Homo sapiens: one gene and its partners. The protein of the gene in region 1 interacts with the protein of each later gene in a biochemical or structural test. Each region holds a gene or a part of one and is shown on either strand. Other genes may lie near its edges.

Region 1 (3,356 bases):
TCATCTCTGCCTCTGGCTGTATTTGCTGGCCACTTGCCATAGTAAGAATGGTAATACACAACATGAACATTCAAGACCAGGATTAGAAGTAAAAAGTGCATCACAGACTAGCTACCACATCACAGTTACCATCTGACAATATTGCCCAGTGCTGAACAAAAATCATCAATTTGGAAGCAACATGTTCCATAAGACATTACCAGATTCCTGAGTGAGCGAGCCAGGATTTCATATTCTTTTTGGCTTAAACATCATATTACCGAAGTACAACTTTATGTGTTTGAGACCAATGGGTCAAAATCCACTTTTGATTATTTAAGGTCATTCTTTCAATAACAAAGGAAAAAAACTCTATGCATTTAATAGGATTTTAAATGTTTTCAATTTAAGAATGGGTTTATTTGTGCTAGTCTTTAGTAATCTTCATAGCCACATTTTTACTTCATCAACAATCATCTCAGACACACTTTCTAACAAGACTGACTTAAAATATTACGACAGGAAACTATGCCTTCAGGAGCATGTTTATTGTGTTTGAGATGATACATCAGGTGCTCTCTGAGCTACAAAGGGTAAAAGGAAATCCTCTCATTACAAACTGACAAAGGTAAAAGGTAAAACATTTTTCACAACAGCATGAACCACATACTCAGAAATAGATCTGGGTTTAATACAAATGACATAATTCCTAGCCATCTACAGCTACTTTTATAACTTCATACAGATAATGAATTAGGCTAAAATGCACTATAATATTTGGTAGACTTCAGGACCAGTATCCTTAGTACATCACAAAATACATTTTGATATCCCAAAGAAGCAAGACTTGCAAGTAGGCGTTTTAAACATAACTAATCTACAGCTACAAAGTTCTACTCTTGATAGCATTTACCTTTTTGGGGAGTCTCCCAGGCTCCAAAGGATAAAAGCAGAGTAGAATCAGTATAACATATACACAGAAGTCCGTATTGTAAAGGCTATAAAGATTTGCAGCACAGTGAGAAGATGCCTTCTGCTCCTTCACACTGCATACAAATTATGTGAATTATGTTGCGTATCTCTTGGTCCACTGTCTGGCTATCCTGTCGTGTTCTGCTCTGTTGGTCAAATACTGAGTGGCTATGCTTCCAACCAGAGGATCCGCTGGAAAAGCAGAAAGAACATTAAAAGCTATTTTGTGGTATCTTCTTCAAGGTATAGTTCTAATATTCTATTAAAATGAAATGCTTATTTTTCAGCAGTATCTTCATATATAATAGCTAAATTTTCAAAAGAAAAAGTTTAAAGTAACATGATCATATGTATATTTTAATATTCCAGTTAGGAAAGTCCCCTTCATAAAAAAAAAAATGAATTTTGAGCTATATATAAAAAGTTAGATTTGACTTTTATAAAAGATATGTCTTTAATATACAAAAACTATTTTGTAATTTTGGCCTTTCATTCAAAATGGAAGTATACTAGGTGGTTATATTTCTGCTTATGAATAGTTCAAAAATGGTTAATTTTAAAATAAAACCCCAGTCTTACAATACCATGCTATTTCAAATAAAATGCTTCCTTCATTCTGTGCCTGATATGACTCTAATCACTATCAATATTTACACTTGAAAACTTACTTGCCATTTTGTTTTAAGTAGAATTCTGAACTAGAGAGTGAACCTGATATAAATTTTTATTTTGATGTTTAAAAACAAAAAAATATGTACATATGGTACAATATTTGAATTGTACCAAACCATAGCCAGTAAAAAAAAACTATCTTCCTTCCTGACTCCAACTGCTCAGAAGTTTCTTTCCCTGGCAAACAATTGTTACCCATTTACAACATTACTTCCCAGAGTTCTTACATGCACTGACAAGCATTTAGAATATTATGTTGTGTATATGTATTTTTTTCCAGTGCCTTTTATACTTAATATATCTTGAAGATATTTCCCTATTAGTTCATATAGAGTTGTCACATTCTTTTTAAACGTTACATCTATTAATGGGCATTGAGGTTGTTTCCAATACTCTAATAAAGGATACCACAATGAATATCCATCTGTCACTATCTATTGCATATGTATCTCTGCCGAGCATAAGGTAACAACAGTAACAGTCTTTAGTGACTTATCAAATATTTAGAAGTAAGTCAACTTAAAAAAAAAAAAAAGGTCACATAACGAAACAAAATGTGTGAAATTTCAGGTCTAAACATCACTTTATCAAGTCAGCTACCCAAGTTTCTGAAGTTCACATGTGGCAGGCATTTTTTAAAGTTATGAATTATACACAAATGATTTTATCTGAGGTTATATAATCATAATCTAGTTCAATTCTCATTGGCTATCATTTTAATATCCATTACTACTACACTTTATATAACTAATTAATTAAAAAAGGAAGGGAGAACAAGAAGCCTTCTATTATTAAAGTAGTTGCCTAAAAGCATACAGCAGCATGGAAGGAGCAGGAAAAGGAGGCACTGGTTTCAGACACATTGCTTTACTCTTGTTAGAAGTGGTCGGCCGGGCGCGGTGGCTCACGCCTGTAATCCCAGCACTTTGGGAGGCCGAGGCGGGTGGATCATGAGGTCAAGAGATCGAGACCATCCTGGCTAACAAGGTGAAACCCCGTCTCTACTAAAAATACAAAAAAATTAGCCGGGCGCGGTGGCGGGCGCCTGTAGTCCCAGCTACTCGGGAGGCTGAGGCAGGAGAATGGCGTGAACCCGGGAAGCGGAGCTTGCAGTGAGCCGAGATTGCGCCACTGCAGTCCGCAGTCCGGCCTGGGCGACAGAGCGAGACTCCGTCTCAAAAAAAAAAAAAAAAAAAAAAAAGAAGTGGTCTGTGCACCTAAATACTTTTAAAAGTAGAGATTCCATTAATGATGGTGACAAAATAATTATAGAGTGGTATGCCATTAACAAATTAAATGAAGGTATTGAGAAACTTTTGGCCTAGTCTACTTCAAATGGCATTGGTAATTTCCTCACAAACTGTTTTATGGGGATCTTTCTATGAATAACATTTACCTCTCAATCTACATTTAAAGCTAACTAAAAAAAAAAAAAAAAAAAAAAAAAAAGCACTCGTTTTTGTAGTCTTATTGTACATGTTAATAAAGATTTGCTTACCAGGGTTGCAGTCTGTCAAAAGGGAACAAATAGACAGCAAAACCTTTGAAATAGTCAAAGCGGGACTCCAGTTGTCTTTAAGGATGTCCAGACAGATGACTCCCTGACTGTTGATGTTGCAGTGATAGATTCTGGTGCGGAAAGTAACCTAAGCACAGTCACATTAAAAACAGAAGGAAAATGAATGCTGTATTACCAATTAAAACACTAAAAAAAAATGAAGGGTAATATATCA
Region 2 (7,155 bases), on another chromosome or scaffold:
TTTCCTCCTCAGCCTACTCAGCGTCAAGATGATAAGGATGATCCACTTCCGCTTAATTTTCTCTTCCTTAGTTTATTAATAACATTTTCTTTTCTATAGCATACTTTATTGTTAGAATAAAGTATATACTACATATACAAAATGTATTAATTGATTATGTTATTGGTAAGGCATCTGGTAAACAGTAGGCTATTCAGTAGTTAAGTTTTTGGGAGAGTCAAAAGTTATATGGGGATTTTTGACTGTGCAGGGTTTGGTGTCCCTGGCCCCCACATTGTTTAAGGGTTAACTGTATTTATACAAGTATACATATAATTTACAGTATAAATGTTTATACATTTATAATATCTAAAGGTAACAAAAGTCTGTTGATACACTGACACTTTTTTTCTGTACCCTGAGGGCAGACATTTACTCTTTTTACTCCACAGTTTTGTGTGTAATTTGCAGTTTTTCTAAGAATCATGCATTCATGCATTACTTGAATGCTTTTTTTTTTTTTAAGGGGATGAAAAGGGCCTTCCTAGAAAAAAAGACAAAGACTACCAAGGATGTATGAAGGGAAGAAAGAAGTGTGAGGAACTGTGGCACTAAGGATGGCCTGGTGAGCACCAAATGATGTGTAGCTAGAGGAATGCAAGAGGAGTGAGAGAACTCAGGGCCGCCCACCCCTAATCAGACCACCACCCATGGCCACACAATGTTCCTTTGTTGTTTCAATTACAGTGCATAGAATTTGTTTTAAAATAACACTTCTGATACCAAATTTTAAATATGGTATCATCTCAATGGTGTAAATAATGCATTAAAAATGGGCTGGCAGGAAATATGCCAACCTGGTTACTGCCTCTAGGAAGAGCGGGTAGGAATAATCATCTTTTTGCTTCTTCATTCTTTTCCATTTTCCAGTTTTCTGTAACTATGTATTATCAGGGGAAAAAGCATACTTTTCAAAATGAATTTCATATTATAGGAGAAATAAAGCCAGTTATTTCCCCCAAATAATCCCTGGCCGAGGAGGACCCTCGAGTCAAATAAACAGATATATAAAGGATTCTCTGTTACTGTTAAGACTTTCTTTGCCCAGCTGTGAGCTCCCCAACTCCTTGCTCCACACTTCAGGACCAGGACCCTGTGAGGATTGAGATGGAAACACGTGGATGGGAAGAAAGGGTATTTTCATCCTTTCTTGAGTTACATTGATTCTTTTCCCTGCTTCTGAATGACGCTGAGGCCTCCTAGGCGCTACCATCTTTATTTCCTACCATCTCTTCCTGTATATGCTCTTTGCTCTTGTTTTGATATTCCTTCCCTGGTTCCTTTCCCTTCTCCCCTCTCATCCCACTCCTCAAGCTCCTCCTCTTCCTTTCTTCAAGTCACCCTTGTTGGAGGCAGGAGAGATTTGCAGGATGGGAGGGGGAGAAGGTTGCGTAAATGAAAATATTCCAATTCTGTAGTTGAACACTTCCAGGCTCAAGCTGTGGGTCATGACGATGGCTGTCCAGGGAAGGAAGCAAAAGAGAGGATAAAAAATAAGAAAAGCAACCCCTATTGCAAACGTTAATACATTTCCAGTGATTATCTCTTGATCATGATGGGTATCACAGTGTGGAAGACTCTGTTGTCACAGTCACTGACATCAGAAAAAAATCCCCCAAAGTCAGTGTTACAGGTTACTGTCCAGTGTATCATTATCATCAGGATCAAATCCTAAAAACTAAGACAAATTTTTTAAAAATTAAGGGGCAATTTTCTTTTAAAGTATTCTTGTAGGAAACCACAACATCTTTTTTCACAAGAACAGAGGCAAAGAAAGCAGTTTCACCTAAAGGCACAATACCTGCCAAAAAACCACTCCACTTCTTGACCTCACTGGGGACGTCCTCTTCGCAATTTCTTAGTTCATTGGGAATTTTGCCAGCGCCAAGGCCAACAACATTCCTGAAGATGTCATTTCCACCACAGCACACCCTCCCCTATTTACTGGCTCAGTAAACACTGGGGTAATGAACTAATGAACAAGTGAATGAATGAGAAGGCAGCAGCACTCTGCCGGGGTGCTTACCTCTTCTGGTTCATGGAGGCCACCTGGAGCCACTCGTTGGTGCTGGGGTTGTAGGAATGCGCAGCGGAGATCTCCTGGCTAGTGATCCTGTACCCGCCCACTATGAAGAGGTAGTTGTCCAGGATGGCAGACCCATAGCCCCTGACATTGACCAGGTCGGGAGGAAGGTTGTTGGCCAGCGGGAACCAACGCTCAGTCATCTCCTCGTACCTGAGCATGGACGGGGGCTCCCCCTGGTAGGGGTGAGGGGCCAGGGGTCCCCCCAGGAAGTCCCCGAGGGCCACGAGGACAGGAGTCCCAGTCATCCGGGCCTCCCTCAGCCTCTGCTTCAGGCTGACATCCCCTGGAGCTTGGGGAGGAGACCCCAGGAGGTGGAACTGGGGCTTGCACAGCACCTCGTGGAAGTGGACGACCATGAAGCGCAGGCAGGCCTCCTGCAGGTCGGGCAGCCCGTACACCTGCGCCAGGCGGTACATCTCCAGGCAGTTATTGAGCCGCACCTGGGACAGCAGCAGCTGCAGCAGGGACGTGACCTGCAGGAAGGAGGCCGCCTCCACCAGCTCGGACAGCAGGCTCACCTCATCCATCTCCTCGTCCTCGTCCACCCCGCCGCCCTTTTCCCCGCGCGGGCCCAGGAGCCAGCCTTCGCGGGCCCCGCCGGCGTTGATGAAGTCCAGCACCAGCCGCAGGCCCGGCGCGCTGAGGCCGCGCAGCTGCTGCACCTCCGGGCCGCCGGCCTCCTGGCTCAGGGCCTCGCGCATGCCGGAGCGGTAGAGGGCGCGGAAGTAGTCGCTCTGCTCGATGAGCTTCCTCTTGCTCACCGGGTAGCAGCGGTCCTCCAGGCGGATCTGCACCATCTCCTCGGCCGACATGGCTGGGGGCCCCGGGGCGGCAGCGCTCACCGCCAGATCTGCGCGCCGGCCTCCCAGCCCCTACGCGCGCGCCGGTTCCGGGCGGGGCGCCGAGGGATGGCGGCCCGGGAGGAGCGGCGAGGTGAGGGCCGCCCGCGCTCGCCCGGCCTCTCCGGCGGCCCCTCCTCCCGGGGCCCGCTCCCGCGAGGCGGCGGCCCTGCCCTTCTCCTTTCCCTCAGCGCCAAAAAAGGGCCGGCGGAGCGCGGCGGGCGTCCTCGCGCGGGCTCTCCCGGGCGGCGCCAGGCGGGAAGGGAATTCCAGCTCCCAGCCAGCAGCCTCCTCCCCCGCCGCCCTTCTCACTTCCGCCCGCGGGACCCCAGCCGCCGGCCTGACCTGCCGGCTGGATCCGGCTCTCGGGGAGGCCCGGGAAGCTGCGGGCCCGGGCGCCTCGGCTGCGGACGCGCAGCTGCGGGAGGCGGAGGGCGCGCGTCCCCGCAGCCTCTCCGCCCGCCCGGGGCGCGCCGGCTCCGCCGCTTGTTGGGGGCTGCAGTGATGCTCCGGGGTACCCCAGGGAGAAGAAATTCGTTTTCTCTCCCACGCTGCTTTACACGGGCTAAAGAAAAAGAAATGAGCGTGGGAGGAAAGGGAAGGATGGAGTCTCTGGTCCAGGGAGACAAAAAGGCATCAAATATGGGGTCGTCCTTCTGGCCCAGTCCGGCATCGAGTGTCAGTGGGCTGAGGCACGCAGGCGATCTATGGACAGTTGGTGGCAATGTTGGTGGCACGTAGAGCTGATTCTCTGGTAGCGTGGTCGCGTAGGAGCCATCTTACAGGAGGTCCAGGCAGATGGCAGCAGGTTCTCAGAGGAATCGGGTTGGGAGGCAGGGGAGCTTGCATTTGCCACTGGGGCCCCTTATTCTCCCTAAGTTATTAAAAGAAAGATGAAAGCGCAGCCCGACTAAATAAAGTTACATCACGTGGCTTCTGGTTTTAAACCATGTTTTCTATGAGCCATTGCTTTTCTACTTCAGTCCAGTCCATTACGGAATGTTATCCTGGCGCAAAAGATCTGACAAAATTGGCTCATAAATGTCTGCAAGAAGTAGCTTTTCTTGTCACCCCCTTTCTCCACCTACCCTGCCCCCATCATCTGAGGACTATTAAGAGAGACCACACGTGCGGTTTGGCTGAGCGCGGTGGCTCACGCCTGTAATCCCATGACTTTGGGAAGCCCAGGTGGGCAGATCACGAGGTCAGGAGTTCGAGAGCACCATGGCCAACATGGTGAAACCCCGTCTCTACTAAAAATACAAAAATTAGCCGGGCGTGGTGGCACGCGCCTGTGATCCCAGCTACTCGGGAGGCTGAGGCAGGAGAATTGCTGGAACCCGGGAGGCGGAGGTTGCAGTGAGCCGAGATCGCGCCACTGCACTCCAGCCTGGGCGACAGAGCGAGACGCCGTCTCGGAAAAGAGAGACCACTTGTTTCCTATGTTCTCTCACTGAACATTGCAATTAGAAGGCCCACCCCAAATAATAATAGGAAGGACTTTTTGTCTTGCTAATGAATTCATCCCAGGAAGGGGGTGGGGGGAGAAATATATTGTTTGGATTATCTTTGGGTAGGAGAAGGGAGAAGGATTGGGAGGAAGCAGAGGGTGTGTTCACTCTTATCTTACAAAACAAAAACAGAAAACCTTGAAAACTTACCCCAAACCAAGATTTGAGAACCACCTATGATAAACAGTCCTTAACTTGGAGAGAATATGTGTTTGGTTTTTTTTTTTATTATTACAAGCTTCAGCTTTCTTCTTGAATGACAGATTGTTAAATAATATCTTCTTCATAAGTACATTTCCCCTATTTAAAGAAGATACATCCTACCATGCTAACATTTTACCTTAGGAAGGAGAAAGGGTTAAAAACCAGAGAACTAAAAGAAAGTCAAAGGTGAAACATGAGATCCTTTCAACATAGTTTGGTTACATTTGTGGTTCTTACTACGAAATTTATCTGCTTCACAGAGAGGTGTTGTTGTCATCTTTTACTTTGTTTATTATTATTACTTGGGAAAGGAGGTTTATCTTTTTATTTTTTAGAAAAAAAAATGCATTTTTTTTTTTTTTTGAGACAGAGTTTCCCTCTTGTTGCCCAGGCTGGAGTGCAATGCTGCGATCTCAGCTTTCTGCAACCTCCACCTCCCGGGTTCAAGTGATTCTCCTGCCTCAGCCTCCGGAGTAGCTGGGATTCCAGGCATGAGCCACCACACCCGGCTAATTTTGTATTTTTAGTAGAGACGGGGTTTCACCATGTTGGTCAGGCTGGTCTGGAACTCCCGACCTCACGTGATCCACCCACCTCGGCCTCCCAAAGTGCTGGGATTACAGGCATGAGCCTCCATGCCCAGCAAAAAAAAATGCATTTTTTTTTTCCATAGAGATAGGGTCTTGCTACCTTGCCCAAGACAGACCTCAAACTCCTGGCCCCAAGGGATCCTGCCACCCCAAGTGATCCTGCTGCCTTGGTCTCTCAAAGCACTACTGTGCCTGGCCTATTTTCTTTATAATAATGCTAGGAATAAGGAACTAAAAAATAAAAGACATAGAAAATGTTCTAGTAGATTCTGGCCTCCCTGGAAAAAAATGAAGGAAATAAAAATGGATCTATGACTTACTCAGTTGTTTTCTTGGATTCTATAAAAAACATTCATCTCTTCACCTTGTTTCACCTGGCCTTTAAATCGTTACTGATAAAACTCCATTTTCACATCAACCCTTCACACTTCCATTCTCTATGAGGGTGCAGTGAGACACGATAAGCTTTGGAGCAGGAGGTGGAGTGAGTGATCAAGCATTTAGCAGCTTCTTTGGGATGGTAGAGTGTAACATCCAGTATTAAGCATCAGGCTGGGGAATTTTGCTGGGATGCGTCCCCTGTATCAAAGAGACTTGGACCTACGATTTTTCTATGCCTCAACCGGCAACAATGCCAGATTCAGTGGGTCAGCCACAAAGAACAGGCTCTCAGTCTCTCCTCTGTCTCTTGAATCTTTCACCAATGGATGCTTTTGTTTCCCAGCCGTCATAGATATGCCTCAGACTGGTATTTTCTTGCCTTTTTAAAACAGACCAAAAAAATCATGCTCAAAGAATGATGTGCATTAGAAAGGCAATTCAAGCACAGTAACATTATCAGGGTAAGATGAGGTTGGACAGGGAGTCTGGGGTATTAGTCTCACAATACTGGGCATTGATCTTGTGAGTTTTTTTGGCTCCCAATATGATAATAACATTATTTAGGATTGGGAGCATCTTAAATGATCAAATCATTTTAATAAATTATGCAGTAAGTTTTCTGTTAAGCTAGAAATGCAAAGTCAGAGCAATATAAACTCCTTTATTTTAAAAAGACCTAAAATTATTCCTAGTCTTCCTGAAAATATTGCTTTATATAACTGGAGGTATAATTTTATAGATCTGTTATTGACTGATCATTGAATAATAAAAACCAGTTTTGTGGTACTATCTGTAAAACAGTTTTACAGAAGCGTAATGGTCAAATAGAGTTAGGTAATTTTTATTTTTTATTTTTTATTTTTTTAGACAGGGTCTCACTCTGCCATTCAGGCTGGAGTGTGGTGGCACTATTATGGCTCAATGAAGCCTCCCAGGTTCAAGTGCTCCTCCCAGAGGCCTCCCAGGTTCAAGTGCTCCTCCCACCTCAGCCTCCCAAGTAGCTGAGAATACAGGCCTGCGCCACTATGCCCGGTTAATTCTTACATTTTCTGTGGGGACGGGGTTTCACCATGTTGCCCAGGCTGGTCTTGAACTCCTGGGCGCAAGTGATGCTCCCTCCTCAGCCTCCCAGAGTGCTGGGATTACAGGTATGAGCCACCACACCCAGCTGAAGTAGGTCATTTTTTAAAGAACTTATGGAAAATATCCCTTTTGAAATAGCAAGTAGAAAAAAAAATCTTAGTACAAGATGTTTATCACAGTATTGCTTTTAATAACAAAAAATTGGAAAACAACATAATGTATAATAATAGTAGCTAATATGTATTGAGTGTTTAGCATGTGCCAGGCACTGTTGTAAGTGCTTTACATGGATTACAGTACTGTTTTTATATTTTACAGCTGAGGAAGCTGAAGTGCAGAGTAAATTTTGGTATGGTAGAATGAAATACCAAGGAGCCATTAGAAGTTTTTGTGTAGATCTTTCTTTAGGATCACTGAAAAAT
Region 3 (7,035 bases), on another chromosome or scaffold:
GGAAAGGGGCTCAGGGAGAGCACACTGTGCTGGGGTGGGGTGGGGTGGGGTCGGGGTGAGGCTGTGGCCAGCCATGAGATTCACAGTGAGGCTCTACCTAGCACCTGGCAGAGGAGGGGAACAGTGAGATCTGCCATTCACCAAGGCCAGTCCAGCTGCAGCCCAAGGGGTGGTCTGGTGTGGGGGAAATGCGGCCAGAAGGTAAGGCCTGGCTAAGGAGGCGGCGCCATGCAGACACTGGAGTGGACAGGGCTGCCGCGGCACCAGCTGGGTGCTGGAGGCCAGCGGGGGCCGCTCACGCTCCGCCAGCCCCGCCTCCCCACATGCACCAAGTATCCTGCCTCAGCTGGTGGGCTCTGGGCTCCCCCAGCAAAGGGACTTCCTTGCTCCTCTGCCTGCCCCATGTCCCCGGATGGCGCCGACTGACTGGAAGTGTGGCTGGTCAGGGCGCTTGGAGACAATCTCACCTAACCCCCCGGTTGGACAAATGGGGAGACTGAGGCCTGATGAAGGCCACAGGTTGGCCAGGGGCCACACAGGGCCTTCAGAGGGCAAGCCTCCCGACCCCTCCCTGGTGGGGCCTTGCCTCTCTTACTTGACTGTGCCCATCACCCCATCAATGCCCCGGGACACCCCAGGACCCTCCAGAACAAGGCCAAGGTTCACACATTGCTGGGCATTTGGCAGCTCCCGTGGCAATGTGTGTCCCCAGGAGAGGGCCCGGGGCTGCAGAGCCTGGTGTGACCAGGCCCCTTTGGCCTGCGCTGCTGTGAATGTGGACAAAAAGCCACTCCGGAGATGTCACCAACCGCAGCACCTCGCTCAGCAGACATGGGTCTGGACACTGGCCCAGCCTCTTGCTAGCGTGTGACCAAGGGAAACTCCTTAACCAACCCAGTGCTCCTCATCTGCACAATGGGGGCGCCGCATGTCTCCTCTCTCACTGTCCCTGAGCCCCACTGTCCTCAGCTGGGCAGAGGGGAGTGGGCCTCCCAAGGGTGGTGAGACTCCAATGCAGATGCTGAGAGCCCAGGAGGCATGAGGGCCTCTCATGCACCTGAGTGGGGCCAGCAGGCTGGCTGGGCTGGGGCTGGGCCTCCCGGAACCGGGCGCCTTCAGACCTGGCCAGAGAAGCCCGAGAGGGCAGGCACCGGCAGAAGGACAAGGCCACACTCACTTGGTCACGAACGCCAGCAGCAGGGGTGCAAGGGCCTTGGGGAAATAGTCCTGCTGCACCATGTGGTTCAGCGCCATCAGGGGGCCGTACAGGTTGGCAATGGCCTTGACCTTGTCTTCACTCTGAGAGGAACACAGCGAAAAGCGGGGTGAGCTTCAAAGTCACCTGGGGGGGCCCCTGGACTCCACCATCCAGACTCTGCTGATAGTGCCCACAACTGAGTCTAGCCGGAATCTCATCGTGAAGACCAAGGCTGCTGGGGCAGACCCAGGCCTCGGGGCCCCGTGGGCGAGCCGGCTCAGGACTCGAGGTGAGGGAGGTTGGCGGGCATGGCTGGGGCAGCTTCTGTGCAGACCCCACCCACCTCCCTCCCGGGCCTGCTGTTCCTTCCGGCCTCACCTTGAGCAGACCCATGTGCACGAGCAGCCTGGTGAGGAAGGTGTTGGAGTTGAAGGACGAGGAGTTGAAAGCCTTCTGCATCAGGGCATCTGTAGGGCAGAAGCAGCAGGGGCAGGCTGCTGGCTATGGCAGAGGGCTGGGCCAAGGCACCCAGGGTTCCCCCAACACCGCGCAGACACAGGCTCGCCTGCCTCCTCGCCCTGACGAAGAGGCGAACACGAGAGGGACGGCAGAGACACAGGAACCAGAGGGAGTGGCAGTTGGCATCAGGGGATGGGCTCAGTCCATCTGCCAGCTGTGACACTCTGGCCCTTGCCCATCCTGGCCTCAGGTATAAAATGGGCATGGGGATGACACCCACTGTGCCCACCTCACACCGTGGGAATGGAGATTTCCTGAGGCAGGCTACCACTGGGGAGGATTCAGGTTATTTTGGCAGGGTGAGGGGATGTGCAGGGACTGTGCTAGGCTTCCTGGGAAACAGAACTAGGGCAACTTGTTCCCAAAAATGCCCACAGGCGGGCCCTCAGGGAGCAGGCTTGTGTCTGGCCCCCACCTCCTTCCGAGCCTCATTTCCCACTGAGCCGCCCTCCCCGCTTCGACGCCACGCCGGGAAGAGGCACCACATGTCCTTCCACCCCTTTCTATCTTTTCCAGGAACCGTCCCCCTCGCCTCAGGGCCCTTCCTCCCCTCTGCCTAACCGGAACTGGCTCAGGTTTCGTTAGATGTGGAGGCTCAGTCAAGCACATGGAAACAGGGTGGAAGGTGACAGGTGCTGGAATGGAGGAAACAGACAGGGTGGGGAGAGGGTTGTGATAGGGCTGGAGGGATATGGGCTGGTGCTCCAAGGAAGCCCCCATAATGTTATGGGGAAAGGTGTCCTCTGTGCAAGGAACCTCCAGGTAGAGTGGACGTGAGCACAGAAGCTCCAAGGTGTGGACAAGGGCTTGGCTCTCACCATCCCTCCTCCCGATAGACCTGCGTCCATTGGGCTTGCAGATGTGACTATCTGGACTTCCTAGAGCGGGCTATGGGTTCTAACTGTACATGGCTGTGTGGATTTGGGAAAGGCCTCAGTTTCTCAGTGGTGAAAAACAGGGAGAAGAGCAGCCAGCTGGCTCCACGGCAGGACCCTGACGGAGGAAAAACTCAGGTGGCCAAAGAGCAGTTCCCATGAGAGCGCTGGGGCTGACGAGTTACGGCAACCACGAAGGATACCTGGGGCCCACGAGCATCAAGGGACAGAGGGCACCCAGGTCTCACCCAGCCCACATTACCTACTGCATCCTGCACTGCCATCCTCACAGTAGCTTCGTCCTTGAACACAGATGACACCTTTAGGAAGGCAGAGACCACCTTCTCGGGGTCAGACGTGTCAGTCTGAGGACAAAAGAGACAATGGTTGGCCTGTGGCACGTGGTGGAGAGGTACCTGGGCTCTGACGCTAGCTAGGAGAGGCCTGGGCAGTACAAAGGCCCCTGGCGGGCAAGAACAGGTCCTGCCTTACCCCATGCTGTCCCTTCAGAGTCTGGCTTGGATTTGGCCTGCAGCAAGCACATATGCAGCATAGAGAGGGAATGAATGAGTGAATGAACAAGGATGAAAAATCATCCCAGCCGGGTGTGGCGGCTCATGCCTGTAACCCCAGCACTTTGGGAGGCTGAGGTGGGAGGATGGCTTGAGGCGAAAAGTCTGAGACCAGCCTAGGCAACATAGCAAGACCCCATGTCAACAAAAAGGAAAAAAATTAGCCAAGGTTGGTGGTGTGTGCCTATAGTCTCAGCTACTTGGGAGGCTGAGGCAGGAGGACTGCTTGAGCCCAGGAGGTCGAGGTTGCACTGAGCCATGATTGCACCACTGCACTCCAGCCGGAGTCACAAAGCAAAACATTGTCTCAGAAAAAAAAAAAAAAAAATCATTTCAGGGATCCAGTGGTCCCCATCTTGTAATTGAACTTGAAGAAATAATCTAGCATGTAGACAATACTCACATGCAGAAACGTTTACCTCAACCTCACAACAGGGAAAAGTGGAAAAAACGTCAGAAACAGTGCCTGGCTTTTAAGTGCTACATCCACACATTGCAATAAAAATCCTGAGAAGAGTTTTATGGGCACAAGAAAGTGATGAATGGTGCTACACCAAAGTGATAGGCCACAGAAAGGCTTACAACATCTGATTTATCATGTTAAAAGAAACAAAGAATACAGGCAAAACCTAACAAAGCAATTGGCCGAAATGTTAAGCCAACTCTGAGAGTGGGCCCATTTTATTTCTCTGTAACCTCCGAGCCTCCGCTTTCTTATCTACAAAATAAGGGCTGGCCGGGCACGGTGGCTCATGCCTGTAACCCTAGCACTTTGGGAGGCCGAGGTGGGTGGATCATGAGGTCAGGAGTTTGAGACCAGCCTGGCCAACGTGGTGAAACCTCGTCTCTACTAAAAAATACAAAAATTAGCTGGGCGCGGGAGGCTGAGGCAGGAGAATTGCTTGAACCCAGGAGGCAGAGTCTGCAGTGAGCCGAGATCGTGCCACTGCACTCCAGCCTGGGCGACAGAGTGAGACTCCATCTCAAAAAAATAAATAAATAAATAAATAATAAAATAAAGTAAGGGCAGCAGAGTCTACATTTCATGTTGCCAAGAGGGTTAAATAAAATCATGCCCAAATGCAGTGCCTGGCAGAAAATGGATGCCCCGAAGATCATCTATGAATGAATGAATGAGCCAACCAACAAGTGAGGCTGGAGTGAGGGCACCCATCCTGCAATAGGCACGTCACTTCCAAAGGAGCCCTGGGCAACAGAGTTGTTCTCGAAGCAGCTGGGCTGACGGAACACGCAGAGAGAAGCCAAGGAGGGGGTGGGCACATGCAAGGCTCTTAAGGAAATTCCCTAACCCCAGTCAGCATGGGAACTGGCGGGCTGTACTTTCTGTAGGCTGAGTGGGGAGGGAACATTTGCAACCCCTGGAGGCTTATAAATACCCTGGACATTTGCGCGTGTTGTAACAGTGGCAGGCCAAGCCTCCCTGCCCCCAGCTGACAGCGTCGCACCCCCAGGTCTCTGAGCTGTTCGTCCCTTTTCTCTAACAGCTCCAGAAGCCACAGCACGTACAGCGTGGGGGTCGAGGGGTGGTTATTACCTGCTGGGCTATCAGCACGGAGCTCTTGGGCCCTAGGCGCAGCAGCTTCTCTGGAGAGGGAAAAGCCAGGAAGGTGGAGACGTCTGCAGGAGGTGGGGAGGACAGCACGGGAGCTGGCTCCTGGGAAGTAGGGGCACAGAGGCTCTGGAGAATTCCGGACCCCAGACTCCCCGACACAGCTGTGCCCATCCCCACACCCAGCACATCCACCCTTCACTCCAGCCCATCTAGGCTCAAAGTCTAGAATTCTTCCTCCCACTCAGCTGCATTTCCCATCTATCAATATCACCCAGAGATGCTGGCCCTGGATGGCTCTTGGTCCAGGAGCCTTTGGGGTGAGGGGGAAGCTACCTCCCTGGGACTCAAAAAACCTGCTACGGCCAAGTGGATCCTCGTCATGACATGCAGTGCCCCAGAAATGACTACGGAGGCACATGGGGGCTAAAGTGGGTCCCCGTAGAACTACAGTCCAGCCTGGGTAAGCCCTGCTAGCACCAGAGGTGCCCAGAGGAAAAACTGAATTGAGGCGAACCTAGCCATTTGTTTAATTGATTCCATAAACCAGAGAAGCAGCCCAATTCAGCGTAAGCATGGGGAGTCCTTGTCCAGAGCCAAGTTCTCCAGGAGCTTTACTTAGGAACCTGACAGGGAATGCAAATGAATGAACTGGAGGTGTGGCAGCCCTGATGCAGCCCCGGGCCAGACAAGGGACACCAAGTGCCCAAGCCAGGTCATGGCCCAGCCACCATCCCAGGAATGGGGGAGTGGTTCCTAAGGGTCACCAAGACAATCCTCTGGTGGGTGGGGAAAAAAAAAATCAGAATTTCTATTTATGCTTATTTGTTTATTCTTTCAGAAACCCTTATGCATATCTTATAATATACATAATGCAGCAGCACTGCTACCTGTAAATAGACATTTATATTGGGGTAAATAGAAATATAGGTAACTATGGCTGGGCCCGGTGGCTCAATGCCTGTAATCCCAGCACTTTGGGAGGTCGAGGAGGGTGGATCACCTGAGGTCAGAAGTTCAAGACCAGCCTGGCCAATATGGCGAAACCCCGGCTCTACTAAAGATACAAAAATTAGCCAGGCGTGGTGGCAAGCATCTGTAATCCCAGCTGTTTGGGAGGCTGAGGCATAAGAATCACTTGAACCCGGGAGGCAGAGGTTGCAGTGAGCCGAGATCACACCACTGCACTCCAGCCTGGGTGACAAGAGTGAGACTCCATCTCAAAAAAAAAAAAAAGAAATATAGGTAACTATCATTACACTGGGACCATTTTCCTTTTTTTACTCAATATCATGCAATCAAAAAAAAATGTTTGTGGCTACTGTGCTTAAGGAGACACCCCCTACCCCATTGTGAAAGTGCCTCGGGATTTCACGTTCTCAGGACCAGGGCTCTGATTGTGGCAGATGATAGAAACTCACCCCAGTGTTAGGGTCCAGAATCTTCCGTGAGGGCGTGGCTGACTTCTCTCCCTGCCCTCGCTGCTGAGGCTCTTCTTCCTCCTCCTCCTCCTCTTCTTCCTCCTCTTCCTCATCTTCCTCCTCCTCTTCTTCTGCTTCCTCTTCTTCCTCTTCTCCTTCCTCCTCCTCCTCCTCGTCCTCGTCATCACTGCAGAAAGAGCTGGCTGAAGCAGATCCTCTCTACCCAGCAGCCCAGGTTGGCTCTAAGGCCTGGCTCCATGAGCCCAGAGACCTCACCTCAGCCAGGAGGGAGAGAGCCTGGTGGGGTGGGAGCACCTGCTCCCAGGGCAGGGGCAGGTGGATCACCAGGGAAATCCATGCTGTGGACACAAAAAAATAAGATCGGCCCGGCGCGGTGGCTCATGCCTGTAATCCCAGCACTTTGGGAGGCCGAGGTGGGTGGATCATGAGGTCAGGAGATCGAGACCATCCTGGCTAACGTGGTGAAACCCCGTCTCTACTAAAAATACAAAAAATTAGCCGGGTGTGGTGGCGGGCGCCTGTGGTCCCAGCTACTCAGGAGGCTGAGGCAGGAGAATGGCGTGAACCCTGGAGGCGGAGCTGGCAGTGAGCCGAAATTGTGCCACTGCACTCTAGCCTGGGCAACAGAGCGAGACTCCATCCCCCACAAAAAAACAAAAAAAAAAAACAAAAAAAAATCAGATCTTGTCCCTGTCCTCAAGGAGCCCCAGGTTTCATGGAGAGACAGAAAACGAAGACAGCTTTGTCACACCTAGAGCCCAGGGCTTGGCAGGAACACTGCCCAGGTTGAGATGCCAGGGCAGGGGCGCCCACATCCACATGACCTCAGGAAGCTACAGGTGTGGGGGAGGAAGAAGAG

What was found. The genes of interacting proteins can lie anywhere in the genome.
Region 2: the proteins of UBE2E3 (region 1) and KLHL42 form a complex in vitro, tested with the Homo sapiens proteins (one study listed by BioGRID).
Region 3: of the proteins of UBE2E3 (region 1) and RANGAP1, one has a biochemical effect on the other in vitro, tested with the Homo sapiens proteins (one study listed by BioGRID).

Annotation. Positions count from the first base shown.
Region 1 is NC_000002.12:181,060,578-181,063,933, reverse strand, and holds the end of UBE2E3 (ubiquitin-conjugating enzyme E2 E3), read right to left. Parts: intron 3,270-3,356; coding exon 3,122-3,269; intron 1,144-3,121; coding exon 1,046-1,143; 3' UTR 509-1,045; downstream 1-508. UniProt on the Homo sapiens protein: Accepts ubiquitin from the E1 complex and catalyzes its covalent attachment to other proteins. In vitro catalyzes 'Lys-11'- and 'Lys-48'-, as well as 'Lys-63'-linked polyubiquitination.
Region 2 is NC_000012.12:27,776,113-27,783,267, reverse strand, and holds the start of KLHL42 (kelch-like protein 42), read right to left. Parts: upstream 3,036-7,155; 5' UTR 2,938-3,035; coding exon 2,066-2,937; intron 1-2,065. UniProt on the Homo sapiens protein: Substrate-specific adapter of a BCR (BTB-CUL3-RBX1) E3 ubiquitin-protein ligase complex required for mitotic progression and cytokinesis. The BCR(KLHL42) E3 ubiquitin ligase complex mediates the ubiquitination and subsequent degradation of KATNA1.
Region 3 is NC_000022.11:41,248,153-41,255,187, forward strand, and holds part of RANGAP1 (ran GTPase-activating protein 1), read right to left. Parts: intron 6,515-7,035; coding exon of another isoform or gene 6,433-6,514; exon of another isoform or gene 6,343-6,432; coding exon 6,156-6,342; intron 4,899-6,155; exon of another isoform or gene 4,840-4,898; coding exon 4,720-4,839; intron 2,958-4,719; coding exon 2,855-2,957; intron 1,666-2,854; coding exon 1,577-1,665; intron 1,300-1,576; coding exon 1,178-1,299; intron 1-1,177. UniProt on the Homo sapiens protein: GTPase activator for RAN. Converts cytoplasmic GTP-bound RAN to GDP-bound RAN, which is essential for RAN-mediated nuclear import and export. Mediates dissociation of cargo from nuclear export complexes containing XPO1, RAN and RANBP2 after nuclear export.